Linked DNA regions of Homo sapiens: region 2 is linked to region 1. A link means that fine-mapping ties the variant in region 1 to the expression of a gene that starts in the linked region. Tissue or cell type: fibroblasts. Region 1 holds a variant in brackets; the other region holds the start of a gene. All regions are shown on one strand. Distances are from middle to middle.

Region 1 (8,171 bases):
AGAGGTCTGTTCTAAGATTATTTTTGTCATAGCTATTATGCTCCTTGGAATCCTCAGCGGGGGTGAGCTGTGATCTTGAGCCAACCAAGCTGCACTGCCCTGGGTCCAGGGAGCCAGCGGGGAAGATACGAGAGTCCAGTGTCTGTAGGGAAGGCAGACACCTGGCCTCATAGTGCCGAGGCCGCCCACATCACAGTCCGGGAGAGACGGGATCCTGGGTAGAAGAGACCTGGGCCCAGGAAGAGATAGACCCGAACCACAGTGCTGGGGGGAGGGTTATATGAGTCCGCCAGAGGTCTCAGCACTGGGGTGCATCACTGTGGAGGAGTGTGGTCAATAGGCAGGGGGTGACTGGACCAGGGCCCCCAGCACCTGAGGGAGGTCTGTGTGATACTAGGGTTTGTGTGTGGCTTTGGGACTGATTTACGAGACAACTCAGCACATGGTTAAGACAGAGCTGCTGTGGCCCTGGTGGTTGTGCAGCGCTGGCTGGGGGTCCCTTGGGAGTGTGTGACGGTGGACCTCACGGATGCCTGACCTTCACTGCACACTCATGTGCACCCAGGGCCCTCAGTTGTAGCTGCTGTCATGGCACAGAGGGAGAACTGGAGCAGCGCGCCCACCTAAAGTGCATGCCAGGAACATGGCAGATCGAAGCCCAGTCTGTCTGGCCTCATGGCCCCAGGGTGTGAGGGCAGAGCATGAAGGTGGATGGCCACAGGGAGGAGAACCCAGCAGCCGGCGTACAGGATCCGCACTGGCTGGGCACTGTCTCGGCCTTTCGTGCGTCCTCCCTGTGTCCAGAGCTGGCCTTCCTGTGGTGGTACCAGGCACACCCTATCCGCTGGGTGCTCATGAAGCTGGTGGCCTGGGCGCCTTCAGGGAAACAGAGGGGAGGGTACCCAGGTTTTCCCACACTAGTTGAAACCAGTCAGTACATACCTATCTTCTGTTTTCTGCAGGGTTTGAGCAAGGGCTGTGCCAAAACACACAATAAAACCAAACCAAACCCAAACTACGACAACATGGCTGGGCACTGTGGCTCATGCCTGTGATGCCAGCACTTTAGGAGGCCAAGGCGGGAGGATCACTTGCACTCAGGAGTGTGAGACCATTCTGGGCAACACAGCGAGACTGTCTCTACAAAAAACACCAAAAAATTAGCTGGGTGTGGTTGTGCGTGCCTGTGGTCCCGGCTACTTGGGAGGCTGAGGTGGGAGGATGGCTTGAGCCTGAGAGGTCGAGGCGGCAGTCAGCCGAGATCACGCCACTGCACTCCCACCTGGGTGGGAAGGTGAGTCCCTGTCTCTGGAAAAAAAAAAAAAAAAGAAAAAGAAAAAAAACAAAACAACAACAATAGCAAAACAGCACACAACCAGCTTTGTTCACACGGAGCTCAATCACCTTGACTTTTCTTCCAAGCCGACTCAGCCTTGAGCTCTCAGTCCCTCACATTCTGCCCACCCCTGGGTCTCCTGGGCCTCAATCCTGACATGTGAGCAAGGGCCTCCTTCTCTCTCTGTTTTTTTTTGAGACAGGGTCTCCCTCTGTCACCCAGGCTGGAGTGCAGTGGCGTGATCTTGGCTCACTGCAACGTCCACTTCTTGGTTCAAGTGATTCTCCTGCCTCAGCCTCCCAAGTAGCTGGGATTACAGGTGCCCACCACCACGCCTGGCTAATTTGTGTATTTTTAGTAGAGACCGGGTTTCACCATGTTGGCCAGGCTGGTCTTGATCTCCTGACCTCAGGTGATCTGTCCACCTTGGCCTTCCAAAGTGCTGAGATAACAGTCGTGAGCCACCGTGCCTGGCCAAGGGCCTCCCTCTCTAGGGGGCAGAAGGGCTGGGGCCTGTGCGCCCCCCAGCATGTTCCCACTCCATGACAGGCCCTCCCTCCAGGGAAGATCTTCAGTGCCCAGGGAGGGCTGATCTGCGCAGAGCCTTCCATGCTCCCTGCCACAGCTTCCCCGCACTGGGCTCCAGGGGTCCGGTGAGCACCTGGCACCCAATTCTCCCCAGGACGCCCACAGGCTCTCCCTCCAGCGGGGCTCCCTGACGCTTCGGACACCTGCTTTTATTAAAAATAGTCTGCCTTTAGTTTTTTAAAAATATTTTATTTTATTTTATGTTTTTTGAGATGGAGTCTCGCTCTGTCACCCAGGCTGGAGTGCAGTGGCGCGATCTCGGCTCACTGCAAGCTCCGCCTCCCAGGTTCATTCCATTCTCCTGCCTCAGCCTCCCAAGTAGCTGGGACTACAGGAGCCTGCCACCATGCCCGGCTAATTTTTTTGTATTTTTAGTCTAGACGGGGTTTCAGCGTGTTAGCCAGGATGGTCTCGATCTCCTGACCTCGTGATCTGCCCGTCTTGGCCTCCCAAAGTGCTGGGATTACAGGCATGAGCCACCATGCCCAGCCGCCTTTAGTTTTCAATTAAAAATTGTAATGAGGTCATTGTCGATTCACATATGGTTGTAAGAAATAACAGAGAGACATTCATTATATGCTTCGCTCGGTTTCTTCCAAGGGTAACCTTTTCTTTCTTTCTTTTTTTTTTTTTTTTGAGATGGAGTCTCACTCTGTTGCCTAGGCTGGAGTGCAGTGGCATGATCTCAGCTAACTGCAGCCTTTGCCTCCTGGGTTCAAGCTATTCTCCTGCCTCAGCCTCCCAAGTAGCTGGGATTACAGGTGCCTGCCACCACGCCTGGCTAATTTTTTTTTTTTTTTTGTATTTTTAGTAGAGATAGGGTTTCACTACATTGGCCAGGCTGGTCTTGAACTCCTGACCTCAGGTGATCCACTGGCCTTGGCCTCCCAAAGTGCTGGGATTACAGGCGTGCGCTACCGTGCCCAACCCAAGGCTATCATTTTGCATAACTTGGTGCAATATTACACCCTCCGCTGTGGGGAGGGGCATCTGGGAGCCCCTGTGGCCACTCATTGGTTCTCTCCATTTCCAGAATTGTGGCTGCAGGGAGCTGTGCAGAGGAAGTTGTCCTGGAGGCCGCCTGTTGAGAGGCCACTTTCACTCCGGAGAGTCTCTGTAGTTCCCCCTGGCGGCTATGCCATTCAGCGGCACCGCCTTCCTGTGGCTGGGCTGTCTCCCCTGGTGCCCATGGAACCAGCTGAACCCTTTGCCATTGAAGGACATCTGGGCTGCTTCCCAGGTTTTGCCTAAAACAAGTAAAGCTGCTGTGAACACTCATGAGCAGGTTTTTGTATGAACATGACTTTCATTTCTCTGGGGCGCATCAGGGGGTCGTGGGAGTTGCGTGTCTAGTTTGATAAGAAACAGCCAAGCTGTCTTCCAGAGCGGCTGCTCCATCGTCCACTCCCAGCAGCAGCAGGTAGGTGACCCAGCTTCTCTGCCTCCCCATCAACATGTGGGGTGGTCATGGTTTATTTATTTATTTATTTGATTTATTTTTATTTTTTCAGATGGAGCGTCTCTCTGTCACTCAGGCTGGAGTGCAATGGTGTGATCTCGGCTCACTGCATAATCCACCTTCTGGGTTCAAGCAATTCTTCTGCCTTAGCTTTCTGAGTAGCTGGGATTACAGGAGCGCACAACCACACCTGGCTGATTTTTATATTTTTAGTAGAGACAGGGTTTCACCATGTTGGCCAGACTGGTCTCAAACTCCTGACCTCAAGTGATCCTCCTGCTTTGGCCTCCCAAAGTGCTGGTATTACAGGCTTGAGCCACCGCATCCAGCAACAGTTTATTTTTTATTTAGCCGTTCTGATAGGTGTATAATGAGATCTCACCGTGAATTTTTTGTTTGTTTAGAAACAGGGTTTGCTATGTTGCCCAGTCTGATCTTGAACTTTGGGGCTCAAGTGATACACCCCCCTCGGCCTCCCAAAGTCCTGGGATGACATGAGTGAGCCATCGC[T/C]GCAGCCTCACCGTGGTTCTAGTGTCGGAACGCTGAGGGTGCGTGGTGTCGAACATCTGTTCCTGTGCACGTTTGCCTTCTGCGTGTCCTCGTCAGGGAAATAGCTCTTTACGTCGTTTGTCCATGTTGTAAGTGGGTTGTTTTTGTGCTGTTGAATTTTGAGATACGTTGTGAATAGATCGTAGATTCCAGTCCATTGTCCGCTATGCAGTTTGCAAACATTTTCTCCCAGTCTGTAGTTTGTCTTTCCTTCCTCTTCCCTGGGTCTTTTGTGGAGAAGTTTTTATGTCGAGGAGGTTGTCCTCTGCTGGGTTCCTACCCTCCTCTTGTTCATGGGATGCCCCAGCCGGGAGCTGGGTCCAGGCTTCCTGCACCACCAAAGCGGCAGTGAAAGGGCTCACCCCCGTGAGGTCTCTGCTGCTGGAAGCCTGAGTGTCAGGCAGCGCTCCCACCTCCTGATGTCTGGAAGCCCCTGCACCCCGCGGTATCCAGCATGGAACTAGCTGAACCCCCTTCCCCTCCCACCTGCAGACCCTAGAGGGCAGGAAGCCTTGGCTGTGCCCTGGTCTGAGGCCAGCCTGAAGGTGCATGACCTGCTTCCATGACAGGAGCTGGGGACGCCTCTCTCCTCTGGAAAGGTCCCAATACGGGCATCTCCTGTCAGGGACCTGGGTGCAGGAGCGGTGGCCTCGCCCTGCTTCCTGCAGAGCTGACCCATCCCGGTGACCATTAGCTTCTGCAGACCTCAGTGGTCTCAGGAAAGCGTCCCTAGGGTCTGCCTGGGACCGAAGGCAGAGGTTCCTTCCTTAGGAATTTCCTGCTTTGGGGACACTGCCTCCTTCTCCAGCGAGTTCCCACAGACTAGAACAAGGAGCCGGAGGCCCAGCAGTGGATGCCCGCTTCCTGTCCTGGGGGACAGGAAATCCCCAGGAAGATATCAGATTAAAGCAGATCCCCACATTCTGTCACCTTCCTCTGGGTGAGTGGAGAAGGAGCAGGTGACCCCGGGGAATGGGCGCGGGCTTGGGACATACTTGGTCTGAGCAGGTGACCCGGGAAATGGTGCGTGGGCACGGGACGCACTCGGTCTGGACACGCGACCCAGGGGACGGGGCGTGGGCACGGGACGCACTCGGTCTGGACAGGCGACCCGGGGGACGGGGCGTGGGCACGGGACGCACTCGGTCTGGACAGGCGACCCGGGGGACGGGGCGTGGGCACGGGACGCACTCGGTCTGGACAGGCGACCCGGGGGACGGGGCGTGGGCACGGGACGCACTCGGTCTGGAGGCTGCCATGCTGGAGAGGAGGAGCCCTCAGGGTCTGTGTGGAAGAGGGAGGCAGGCCCTCCCAGACCCATCTAACAGACTCGAGCAGGGTCAGCATGCTGGGCAGGTCCCCCTCCTCTATCCCTGGAGCCAGGCCCAAGTGCCCCTCACTCCAGCTGCAGGTCACGGCCGCCCTGAGCCAGGAGGAAACAGGGTGTTCTCACTGCACTTGCTCCTGGGTCAGGGGCGGTTCAGGGTCACAGGGGCCGGTGCAGGGTCACAGGGGCCAGATGGTGGCCCCAGGGCTGGGTTCTGGGTGGGTGGTGAGCCAGCTGGGGGTGGGGCTCGGTCCCCGTGGGTTTGCTGGTCCCTCCCTATTAAGGGTGCGTAGGTGTGGCAGGGGTGTGTGTGAGAAGCCGGGCCTCGGGCAGACCCCATGCCGGAGGAGGGTCCGAAACACTGTGGGGGGTGGGGACAAGCAAGGAACCAGAACCCGGCTTGGGAAACAGACTGCAATGAGGCAGGGCAGGGGTCGCCCAGCACATGCCAGGGTGTGGCGGCCGAAGGTCAGAAAATCTCCACACCAGTCCCGTGAGATGGGCTTGGTTTTTCCCAGTGTCGTGGACGAGAGACCCGAACACAGAGCGGCTAAATGGCCAGCCTGAGACGGCACAGCTGGCAGGCAGCAGGTCCACACTCCGGTCCCAGTGGGATCTCACTCCAGGCCACACAGGTCCCTTTCTCACCTCGGGGCCCACACAGAGGCGTTGCCCCAGGCTCCAGGCCCCGGAGGTTTCCAGGGAGGGGTGCTCTCTGGACGGGCCCAAGCCCCTGCAGGTGTCGGGGCTGAGAGGCGTGGCCTGGAAGGTCACCAAGGACTGGGGCCTGTGCCTGGACGGCACTCAGAGCAACAGCGAACAGGAGGCACGGGGGCTTGGGAGGAAGCCAGGAGCAGGGTCCGACCACAGAAGGGGTGCATGTCGACTGAGCACCCGCCCCGGGCTCCAGATGCCTTCGAGGGCTCCCTCCATGATCCCACCCAGGGCCCACTGGGAAAGGAAGTGCCCTCCTCATCTACCTGTGCAGGTAGCCTTGGCCACCAGGACAGAAAGGGAAGCAGCAGGATCTGAACCTGTTCTCCCCCCCGCCTCCCTCTCCCCCCCGCCTCCCTCTCCCGCAGGCACCAACACTGGGCACAGGCTGCTACGCTCCAGAGGGGCAGGGAACCCACCGCAGCCCCTGGCGCCCTGAGTGCTCCTTGTGGAAGGGGAGGCAGGTTATGATGGAACGGGAGTACAGAGAGGAGCCCAGCCCACGAGGACCCAGGTGGTCAGGCCTGCAGAACAAGGCGATATTTGGATTTAAACGACAAAGGAGGCCGGGTGTGGTGGCTCACGCCTGTAATCCCAGCTACTTGGGAGGCTGAGGTGGGAGGATCGTTTGAGCACGGGAGTTGCTGATGAGCCTGGGAAACATAGTGAGACCCCATCTCTACCAAAAATAAATAAATTAGCCAGGCATGGTGGCACATGCCTGTGGGCCCAGCTACTCAGGAGGCTGAGGTGGGAGGATCGCTTGAGCCCAGGAGGGTGAGGCTGCAGTGAGCTATGATTGCACCACTGCACTCTAGCTGGGGTGACAGAGTGAGACCCTGTTTCATAAATAGATAAATAAATGGGAGTTTGCTGGGAAGGTGGCCTGGGAGGAAACAGCAAGTGCTGAGGAAACAGCAGCGCAGGGCAGGGGTGGGGCCCAGGGCAGGGGTGGGGCCCAGGTATTCTGGTGCCACTGGGCCAGGTCCCATGGGTCCAGCAGGGGATGGAGCCTGAGGTCAGACCTGGGTGCCGGTGGTCCTGCTGCTGGCCAGGTCGTGGTGACAGCTGAGTCTGGAGGAGGCAGAGGCACCATATGGAATTAACTAGAAGCTCAGGTCAGTGGCGCGTGGTGCTCGCCGGCACTGTCCGTGGTTCTGAAGGAGACCGAGTGGGTAGGCATGTCTTGCCTGGGGTGCAGAGGGTCCTGGAGTCTTGTGGGGCTCAGACACAAGGTCAGAGCCCAGGTGCCAGCAGGCAACCTCTGGCCTGGCTGTTAGGTGGCCTGGGGCTGACCCCACACTCATTCCTGTCATATCGCTCATCCTCACATCCTCCCAGGCATGACGGCACTTCTCTCATGGCACTGGCCTCTCTGTGCCAGCACAGTCACCTCCATAAATTAAAATCCTGTGGATGCAAAGTCACACACAGCCCCTTCCTCTCTGCAGATTCTCTTTCACTGCAGTCTCTGTCTCTTTCTTTTATTTATTTATTTTTAATTTTAATTTAATTTAATTTTATTTTTTTGAGAGGGTCTCAGTCTGTTGCCCAGGCTGGAGTGCAGTGGTGCAATCCTCACTCAGTGCAGCTTCAACCTCCTGGGCTCAATCGATCCTCCCACTTCAGCCTCCTGAGTAGCTGGAACTACAGGCCTGCGCCACTATGCTCGGCTAATTTTTTTTTTTATTTTGTAGAAATGGTGTCTCACTATGTTGCCCAGGCTGGTCTGGAACTCCCAGGCTCAAGTGGTCCTCCTGCCTTGGCCTCTCAAAGTGCTGGGATTACACGTGTGAGCCACCACGCCCGGCCACTGCAGTCTTAACAACAACTTCAGAACCTTCTTCAGAGAGCTGTGCCTGCACCGGCCTGCCCTTCAGGAGCTTCCCACCAACTGGGACACTGGGCAGGACCCCAGGCGGCAGCAACATAAAACTGTGAGCTGATGGGTGCAGGACAGAAGGAGCCTGGGGGTCAGAGAAGGATGGAGAGGGCAGGGCAGTCAGGATGCTCACTGGAGGACAGAGGAAGCAGGCAGAGCCCAGAATTTGGAAAACCCTGGGAGAGGCAGCCCTGTGCTCCGGAGCCGAGAAAGCTCCTTGAATCCTGGCTCCAACAGGTCTCCTCACAGCCTCCGCATTTTGCAGAATGGAGTGCAACAGCAACCTCACAAGTTGTGTGGGATTGCATGAGACCGT
Region 2 (8,171 bases), 37 kb before region 1:
CGAGGTCTCCCCTGCTTAGGAATCTGTGGCCCCTGGGCATTCCCAAGGAGCAGAGGAAGCTGGAAACGCCCAGAAACAGCCCCTGCCTTCACCCAGTGCCTGGAAGTTGGGACAGTAGCTGCCCATTGCTGCGGCCTGGCCCCGTTCTCTCTACACCAGGCCTATCAGCATGAAGAGGGGATGAAGGCCGCCCCCTTATCTGGCTCTGGCTACCTGACAGCCTTCCCAGGCCCCGCTGTGCCTCAGCCACAATCTCCTCCTGCCACAGTCTCTTGCTGGGGGAAAGCAGCCACACTTGCTGTTCTCAGGGCCCAGCTCATCTGTCCTCCCTGGATGTTGTTTCTAGCACAGCAAGGAGACGGCAGAAGCTGCTGGTGCAGCCCCCACTCCCTCCCACGGGGCAAAACCCCTGGGGGTTTCAGGGCACTCGGACATGGCTCCAGTGCCCAGGAGGCTTCCAGGCCTGTGGGGCTGGGGACTCATGCCTGGCTTTCTGGGCCTGGCTGCCCACAGCTGGTGGAGACAGGGCTGGGGGTAGCGCAACCCTGCAGGCTCAGGGGGCCTGGCCCCAGGCCCCTCCATGCTCCCCAGCCCACCCTCCACCTGGGCGTCAGTTTCTTATCCTGCAGAAACTGGCCTGCAGCCACCTCAGTGTGTGTCCTGTGCTGTGCCAAGATGATCTGCTGGGCTGTGCCCTCCCTCAGAAACTGTCCCCCTAGAGAAGTCACACCTCATCAGGCCTGGGGGGGTGCCAGGGCATGCCCTGAGTCTGCTGACCTCCTGGCCTTGTCTCTGGGCTTCTGTGTCCCCACTGGTAACGGGACAGGAGAACTCCTCTCAGCCATTGTACAGATGACATGAGAGGGCAAGGGTGGGCCCTGAGATTCTGACTAAGGGGTGAGGAGCACGGCCCTCAGGGGCATGGGCTGGAGGCCCAGCCACAGTGTGTGCTGCAGGGGCTTGGGATCCTTCCAGGTAGCCCCTGGCCAGGTCCACCAGGACAGGCAGCCCAGGCAGCCCACGGGCGCCCCTTCCCAGCCTCCTCGCAGTCCCTGGGGAGTTGCTCGGGACACCGCAGCGGAGACGGCAGGGCTGCAGGGGAGTGGATGCCAAGCTGCCTGGCTCCCTGCTCCTCTAACTCACCCTGGTCCTGGCTCCTTGGGGGAGCCCCCCGGACTCTCTGTCCCCATCTGAGTGCCCACCTGAGGGCCCCATGCAGCGCAGCTGCTCTCCACAAGCCTCAGTGGTCCCTTCAGCCACCAGGACTCTGACTCCCCAAGAGGGAGAACCCTGTGCCAGGTTGCCCCCATTCCTGGGCCAGGCACGGGCTCTCCAGGCTTGACCTATATGGGGCCTTGCCCCTGCTGTCAGCAGCTCATGTGCTGGGTTGGGCCACGAGGGCCGAGGCCAGGCCTCCTGTGGAACACCCAGCAGAGATGTAGCCTCAGGATCCCTGACCTCTGAGAGGGAGTAGAGCCAGGGGCACTATGGGGCTGGGACTCCCCCACACCTCAACTCCCAGAGCCTGCCATGTGACCATGAGGCCACAACATCAGGGGTGGAGCAAGGCTGGCGCTCTGTCCCTGCGAGTCCCGGGGGATCACACCCAAACCAGCTTGGCAAGGACTCTGGCTGCTCCACTTCCTGAATGACAACACACACTCAGAGGGGCGATGCCTTGCTCCTGGTCACGCTGGATCCAGATTTTGAGGCCACTTTCCCTCCTATACCTCAACTCAGGAAAGAAACAATGCGGGGAGCTGTCCCTAGGGAGCGAGAGCTCAGGCTTGGCCCCAGCCTCAACCACCGCTGCCCCAACCCAACCCGCGCCGAGCCCCTGGCCTGAGGGTGTGGGAACCCCAGCTGCTGAAGGAGCTGCATACAGGTGTCTGGAGGCGCCTCTCAAGTCAGCCAGCGTGGCAGGTCAGGAGGAGACAGGGCAGGGGACGTGAGGGCAGGGGATGCAGGGTGGAGGGCGCACAGCGGGCTGGGTGAGTACCATGTTGATGCCCATGGAGGTGAAGCTGAGGCTCGTGGTGCTGGGTTCCAGGTGTCCCCGGTGATGAGAGACTGACAGGGGACGGGACAGAAGGGGACTCCTGAATGTCCCCTAGGGCTGCCATCTTCCCTGAGACCTGCTGAAGGTGTCACACCTGGGACCTGGGGAAAATGAAAACCATGGCAGATGAGGGGATTGGGAGGAATGTCGGGGGGATGGTGCAGGAGGAGGCAACATGCCAGCTCTCCAAGGGGAGATGGAGGTTTATCCACTCCAGGAGGAGCAAGGATGGAGGATGAACCCACAGAGACACATAGGCCTGGGGTGAGGCAGTTGGGGGACCTGGCACATTTATTCAGTAAGGAATAACGCTTTGAGTGGCTGGGGACGGTGGCTCATGCCTGTAATCCCAGCACTTTGTGAGGCCGAGGTGGGTAGATCATGAGGTCAGGAGTTTGAGACCAGCCTGTCTAATATGGTGAAACCCCATCTCTACTAAAAATATAAAAATTAGCTGGGCGCAGTGGCGGGCACCTGTAATCCCAGCTACTTGGGAAGCTGAGGCAGGAGAACAGCTTGAAATCAGGAGGTGGAGGTTGCAGTGAGCCGAGATGGCGCCCCTGCACTCCAGCCTGGGAGACACAGCAAGACTCAAACAACAGCAGCAGCAGCAGCAGCAGCAAAGGAGTAACGCCTTGGAAGGCGCGCTTAGGAAGCAGCCACCGCCTGGGCGGCACAGCAGACGCCTGTGGGGGCTGAAGCGAAGCTCCTGTCCCAGCAGAGGCTCTGGCATCTCCTTCCAGCCCGTGGCATCACCCCTCCCCCAGAGAAAGGCATAGGGAGTCTTCCAGAAAAACCTCAGCTGCTGGCCCTGTGGGAGGGCTGAAAACCGAACCATGCCTGCTGCGCATGAGTGTTTTGGAGGAAATCTTAATAAGGTTTTTCCCGAACAGCAGAGAAGAGACGTTTCCAGAGGGCAACTCTCTTCCTCAGACCCTACAGAGCCCTCAGAGACTGCAGGCTGGAATCCCCTAGTCCAGCCCTGCAGCAGCACTGGGAGACTCACTCAGGGCTCCAAGACACTTCTTAGTTTACTTTGCAAAAACGGCTTGAGTCCAATGTGAAAAGTGACTTTTCTTTCATACTGTGATAGAGTAGGAACTCCTAATCTGGGGCAGGGAGTGAAGAAAGGAACGGGAAAAGAGGACAAAAGTTAACGGATACTCAGATCTAAGAACAGCAGACAGTGCCTGCTTCGAGGAAGTGGGAGAGGCAGCTCCCACACGGCCGCCACCCCAGTGCCCGGCTTCTGGGCCAGCCTCCATCCCCTAATGATGGGAAGGGTCAGGTCACCAGGTAGGTGGCCACTGGGTGCAGGTCCTCCACCCTGAAGTCACATCTCAAGTTACTTAGTTAACTTACTGGGGACACCTGGTAAAAGGGCCTGCTCGATCACCCCGACCCTGGCTTGGCCCCCAGGACTGAGCAGAGGCGACCATCACAGCGTGGACGCCCCTTCACCCCCAGGGACGCACAAACTCTGAGCTCCAGACTGAAGGGGGAAGGGCACTCCTGCCAGCGGCTCGGGGGAAGCATCCTCTGCCCCTCTGTTCCCAGCCCCGTGGGAGCGGACCCAATCGCCGGGAGCTCGGCACAGAGCGCGTCCGCCCGGCGGTGCGGCGCTGGGGTCCGGCGGCTCCTCGCTCCGGAGCGGCGGGACCTCCGGGCCTCAGTTTCCCATCTGCAGAGTGGCGATGACGACAGCTGCCGTCACTGGGTGCCTGGGAAAGGCGCCCTGCGAACGGACACCCGCTATCGCCAGGGCCGCTGGGCGGGGCGGTCCGCTGCTGCTCCGCGACCCCCAGGAGCCCACCCCGCTCCCCGGGCTTGGCCCAAGGCCAAGGTCACGGCGAGCGGCGGCTGCAAGGGCCGCACGGCCCGGCTGGGCAGGGCTGCACCGCGGAGTACGGCGCACGAGCTCGGACTGGGCTGGTCCCAGGCACCCGGAGCCGCCGCCGCCGCCCGCGCCCACTCACCTTCCGAGCGGGAGGAGGACGCCGCGCGCCGGACGGAAGTGTCCGGCCCCGCCCCACTCCGCCCGGCCGGCGCGCACTTCCGGGACGCTCTGGGCCCCGGGAGGACCGCACGCCTCGGTGGCCGTGTGGGGGCGGGGCCGGGAGCGAAGAGGAGGCCTTTCCCCGCCCCTCCCCTCGTGGGCTGCGCCCGCGCGTGGCTTTCGCGTACACGCTGGCCCGGATCCCGCCCGCGCCTGCAAAGCGCCCGGGCGCGGGGAGCGGCGCTGCGTGGGGCGCAGAAGCCGGCGCCTCGGAGCCTCCTTCCCGACGCCGGCCCTGCACCGCCCGGGGAGCCAGCGCGGGGCCGGGCTTCGGGAGATGACGGCGCCGTCCCCACGCTGCCCGCGGCCCCTCCGTGCACTCCAGGCCTCCGGGGGTCCTCGGCTGGAGTTGCTTCCACGTTCAGCTCGCGAGTCCCCCCCGCCGCCCTCTTGGGTTCCCTCCTCGGGATGTGTCCGCAGCGATGGTCACCGGCGGCCGGGAACCGCTGCGAGACGCGCGACCTCCCGCTCCCCTCGCGGGGGCCCCAGCGCCCTCGATTCTGCCTGCTTTCCAGGGGCGTCCCCGGGAGCCTGAGGAGGATGTTACAGGTTCCCCAAAGCCCCTTCATGGACTCCTTCCTCATTTTCCTCTTGTTCAGCCACAGTTTCTCCCTCAGTTCTGTGCTTACGACCTGAAAAGAGAAAATTGTCACTTTCTGGGAAAAATAAACGGCCGGGGAGGGTTCTTTGACCGTTTTGAGCAGGGGTGCAGAGAGCCGAGGCGAGGGGACCCCTGAGCTGGAGGGGCACGCGGAGCAGAGGGCGGGGGGGCCTGCAGACGGGCAACAGCTGCCAGGGTGGACGCTCAGGGCTGTGTGGGTGGAGGAGCCCCCAGGCTGATAATATGTAAAAATCTCTAAACTCTACCGCAAGAAAACAAACATTCCAGTTAGAAAATTGGCAAGAGCCGCAACAGACGTTTGACCGAAGAGGGCACAGGGATGGCAATAGGCTCGGGAAGGGATGGCTGTCAGGGAAGGGCCGGCCAGCATCGCGGTGGGTGCCACTGCACACTTGCCAGGTGGCTCAGGTAAAAACTGCTAACAAGTGCCAAGCATCACTGAGGTCGCGGAGCAGCTTGGGACATCGCCAGTGGTAAGGCAAAGTGGTGCTGCCATTCTAGAAATTGGCTTGGTAGTTTCTTAAAAAGTTATAAGTAGCGCCGGGCGCAGTGGCTCACGCCTGTAATCCCAGCACTTTGGGACACTGAAGTGGGTGGATCACCAGAGGTGGGGAGTTTGAGACCAGCCTGACCAACAGGGAGAAACCCCATCTCTACTAAAAATATAAAAAAGCTACCCGGACACGGTGGCGGGCACCTGTAATCCCAGCTACTTGGGAGGCTGAGGCAGGAGAATCACTTGAACCGGGAGGCGGAGGTTGCATTGCGCCGAGATCGCGCCACTTCACTCCAGCCTGGGCAACAGAATGAGACTCTGTCTCAAAAAAAAAAAAAAAAAAAAGGAACTAGTACTATATCTGATACTGTTTGGAAGTGAGCCCCCTGCACATCTCATGGAAATGTGGCCCCTGATGGTGGCGGTGGGACCTGGTGGGAGGCTATTTGGGTCATGAGTAGCTTGGTGCCCTCTCCTTGGTGATGAGTGAGAGCTGGCTGTTAAAAAGAGCCTGGCGCCTCCGCCCCTCTCTTGCTCTGGCTCTTACCAAGTGACGGATGCCCTGGCTCCCACTTTGCCTTCTGCTGTGAGTAAAAGCTTCCTGAGCCCTCCCCAGAAGCCTCTTCTTGTACAGTATGACCAGGGACAGCAGCACCCTCTGAACGCTGATCTGAACTGTGAGCCAAGCAAACCCCTTTTGTTCTTTATTTACTTTTGAGATGGAGTTGCCGCTCTTGTTGCCCAGGCTGGAGTGCAATTGGTGCGATCTCGGCTCACTGCAATCTCCGCCTCCCAGGTTTAAGTGATTCTCCTGCCTCAGCCTCCCAAGTAGCTGGGATCACAGGCATGCGCCACCATGCCCGGATAATTTTGTATTTTTAGTAGAGACGGGGTTTTGCCATGTTGGCCAGGCTGGTCTTGAACTCCTGACCTCAGGTGATCCACCCGCCTCAGCTTCCCAAAGTGCTGGGATTACAGGCGTGAGCCACTGCGCCCAGCTCCTCTTTTTTCTTTTCTTTTTTTTTTTTTTGAGACGGAGTCTCGCTCTGTGGCCCAGGCTGGAGTGCAGTGGCGCGATCTTGGCTCACTGCAAGCTCCGCCTCCCGGATTCATGCTATTCTCCTGCCTCACCGTCCTGAGTAGCTGGGACTACAGGCGCTCACCAACTTACCCAGTCTCAGGTATTCCTTTATAGCAGTGCAAAATGGACAAACACAGAACTACATCAGGAGAGCGGCGGACGACAATGCAATTGACTCGATGACAGGCTGCAGCTGCATTGCACCAGGCTGTGCAGACTCATTTTTGGGGGCAGCTGTGTCTTTGTATGTAGTTCTTGACGTCCTGTCACACGCACAGGCTGTTCTGTCACACACACAGGCTGTTGTCACCAGCTCCCTGTGCATCCAGCGCATCACGGGAAGCTGAGTCACCCAAGCTACCGTCCATGTCGGCTGACCCATGAGAAGCTGTGGAGCGTCTCACTCCCCAGGCCCTTTGGACAAATCCTCAGCCTGGCCAGCTCACAGGAGTGAAGGGAGATGGGAACGGGTGTAATCAGAGTGGAAGAATCCCCTTCCCCCACCAGGGAGGTGTGAAGGTGACGGGCAGGGCTTTGGAGGGAGTGCAAAGGTTGCTGATTTAATGAGCTCGGAGCCAGCAGCCAGTCTGGTCTGTTGGAGCAGCAGGTCCCCGCTCCTCACCTCGAGCAGGGTTTTGTTGGGTATTCACTGTAAATAATGAGCTAGTGTTTGTTATGCTGGGAGGAGGGGTTCCAGCCCAAACAGCCCCAGAGCCCCTGGTCCTAAGACGTGGGAGTCGGCCCACAGCCAGCCCCCCCAGCCTGTTGTCTTGATTTGTCCTCTTGGACTGTGGATTAGAAAAGGCCTCCATGGGCTTCTTTTGTTGAGATCGGGGAATCCAGTGCCTGTTCAGATACCCACACAGGCATGGCCTGCTCCAGCCAGTGCTGCTGGGGTTGGGGTGAGGGTGCCATCTGGACGGGCAGTGCCCTTGTCTCTAGGGGTCCCTGTGGGAACCTTCAAAGCTTCCCTGGCAGGAGGGCTGGTCAGAGACCCCGAGCCACTGGAGTAGAGAGGCTGAGAGCACTTCCTAGACCACACCTGGAGATGAGGGGCTTAGAGGAGTGGCCAGGCTTAAGGTCCAAGAAGGCTTCTCTAAGGGGCAGCATCAGAGAGAGATAGGGGTTGGAGCAGGAAGGAGGGAGGGGAGGCAGCAGAAGGGAAGGGCCAGCCCATCACAGAGAGGCAGGAGGGGCGCAGGGGCAGAGGTCTGATGCCTGAAGGAGTTGCCTGGGGTTCGAGTTTGGAAGACCAGGCAGGGGAGTGTGGTGAGCAAGGGGAGGACAGAACGGGATGGGGACAGACCGAACAGCCTTGACACCTCCACTGGGGGCTCAGACGTCATTCTCAGGGCACTGCGGGGCACAGGGGTCTGCAGGGAGGGAGGGAGGAGAGCTGACATGCACTGAAGATCTGCCTGGGGCTGTGGGGTAGAGAAGAGCAGGACAGAAGGGAGAGGGGGTCAGTGGCTGCAGTCCCCTGCACGTGACACAGCTGGCAGAAGTCCGCCTAAGTCCCAGGCCGGGATGCGGATGATGAGGAAGCTTTAGGCCTGGGCTGGTGGGGCAAAGACGGGGCCACTCTGGGTGTTGTCCTCAAGAGTGGAGAAAGGCAGTCAAGCACACTTGCCTCTCGCCAGCGCCAGCCACCGTGTCGCCTTGCTGGCTTGGTTGCAGGGGAGGGAGAGCTGGGAGGGTTCTGGTTAAGTGTGTGAAGGCATGACCAGTCTCCATCCCCACATCTCCAGCCACCGCAGAGGCTTGTTCCCGCACCGCTCCATGCCTTTCCAGCTTCTGGAACCCCAGGCGTCTCTGGGCGGTTCCCTGGGGCCTTGAGAGCCACCTTTCCCGTCCTTT

Which allele goes with the higher level. Positions count from the first base shown, and alleles are read on the strand shown. Sizes are in standard deviations (SD) of each study's normalised expression.
For the expression in fibroblasts of the gene that starts at base 4,075 in region 2, T is the high allele of the variant in region 1 and C is the other (small effect, 0.19 SD a copy in GTEx).

The links. PIP is the estimated chance that this variant, and not a neighbour inherited with it, causes the effect.
Region 2: GLI4 starts here. The variant in region 1 is fine-mapped to the expression of GLI4 in fibroblasts (GTEx, PIP 0.96).

The regions. Positions count from the first base shown.
Region 1 is chr8:143,226,543-143,234,713 of GRCh38, reverse strand. No RefSeq gene overlaps it. Among named protein-coding and RNA genes, the nearest start is that of ZFP41, 16 kb to the left of the region's middle. The variant T/C (reference allele first, on the strand shown) is at 3,894.
Region 2 is chr8:143,263,349-143,271,519 of GRCh38, reverse strand. GLI4 (GLI family zinc finger 4) reads right to left here and starts at 4,075. Exons shown (of 4, transcript NM_138465.4): 1 at 4,036-4,075; 2 at 2,000-2,160. The coding sequence starts at 2,123. RefSeq lists enhancers at 135-635, 1,421-1,610, 2,237-3,059 and silencers at 3,620-3,739, 3,900-4,609.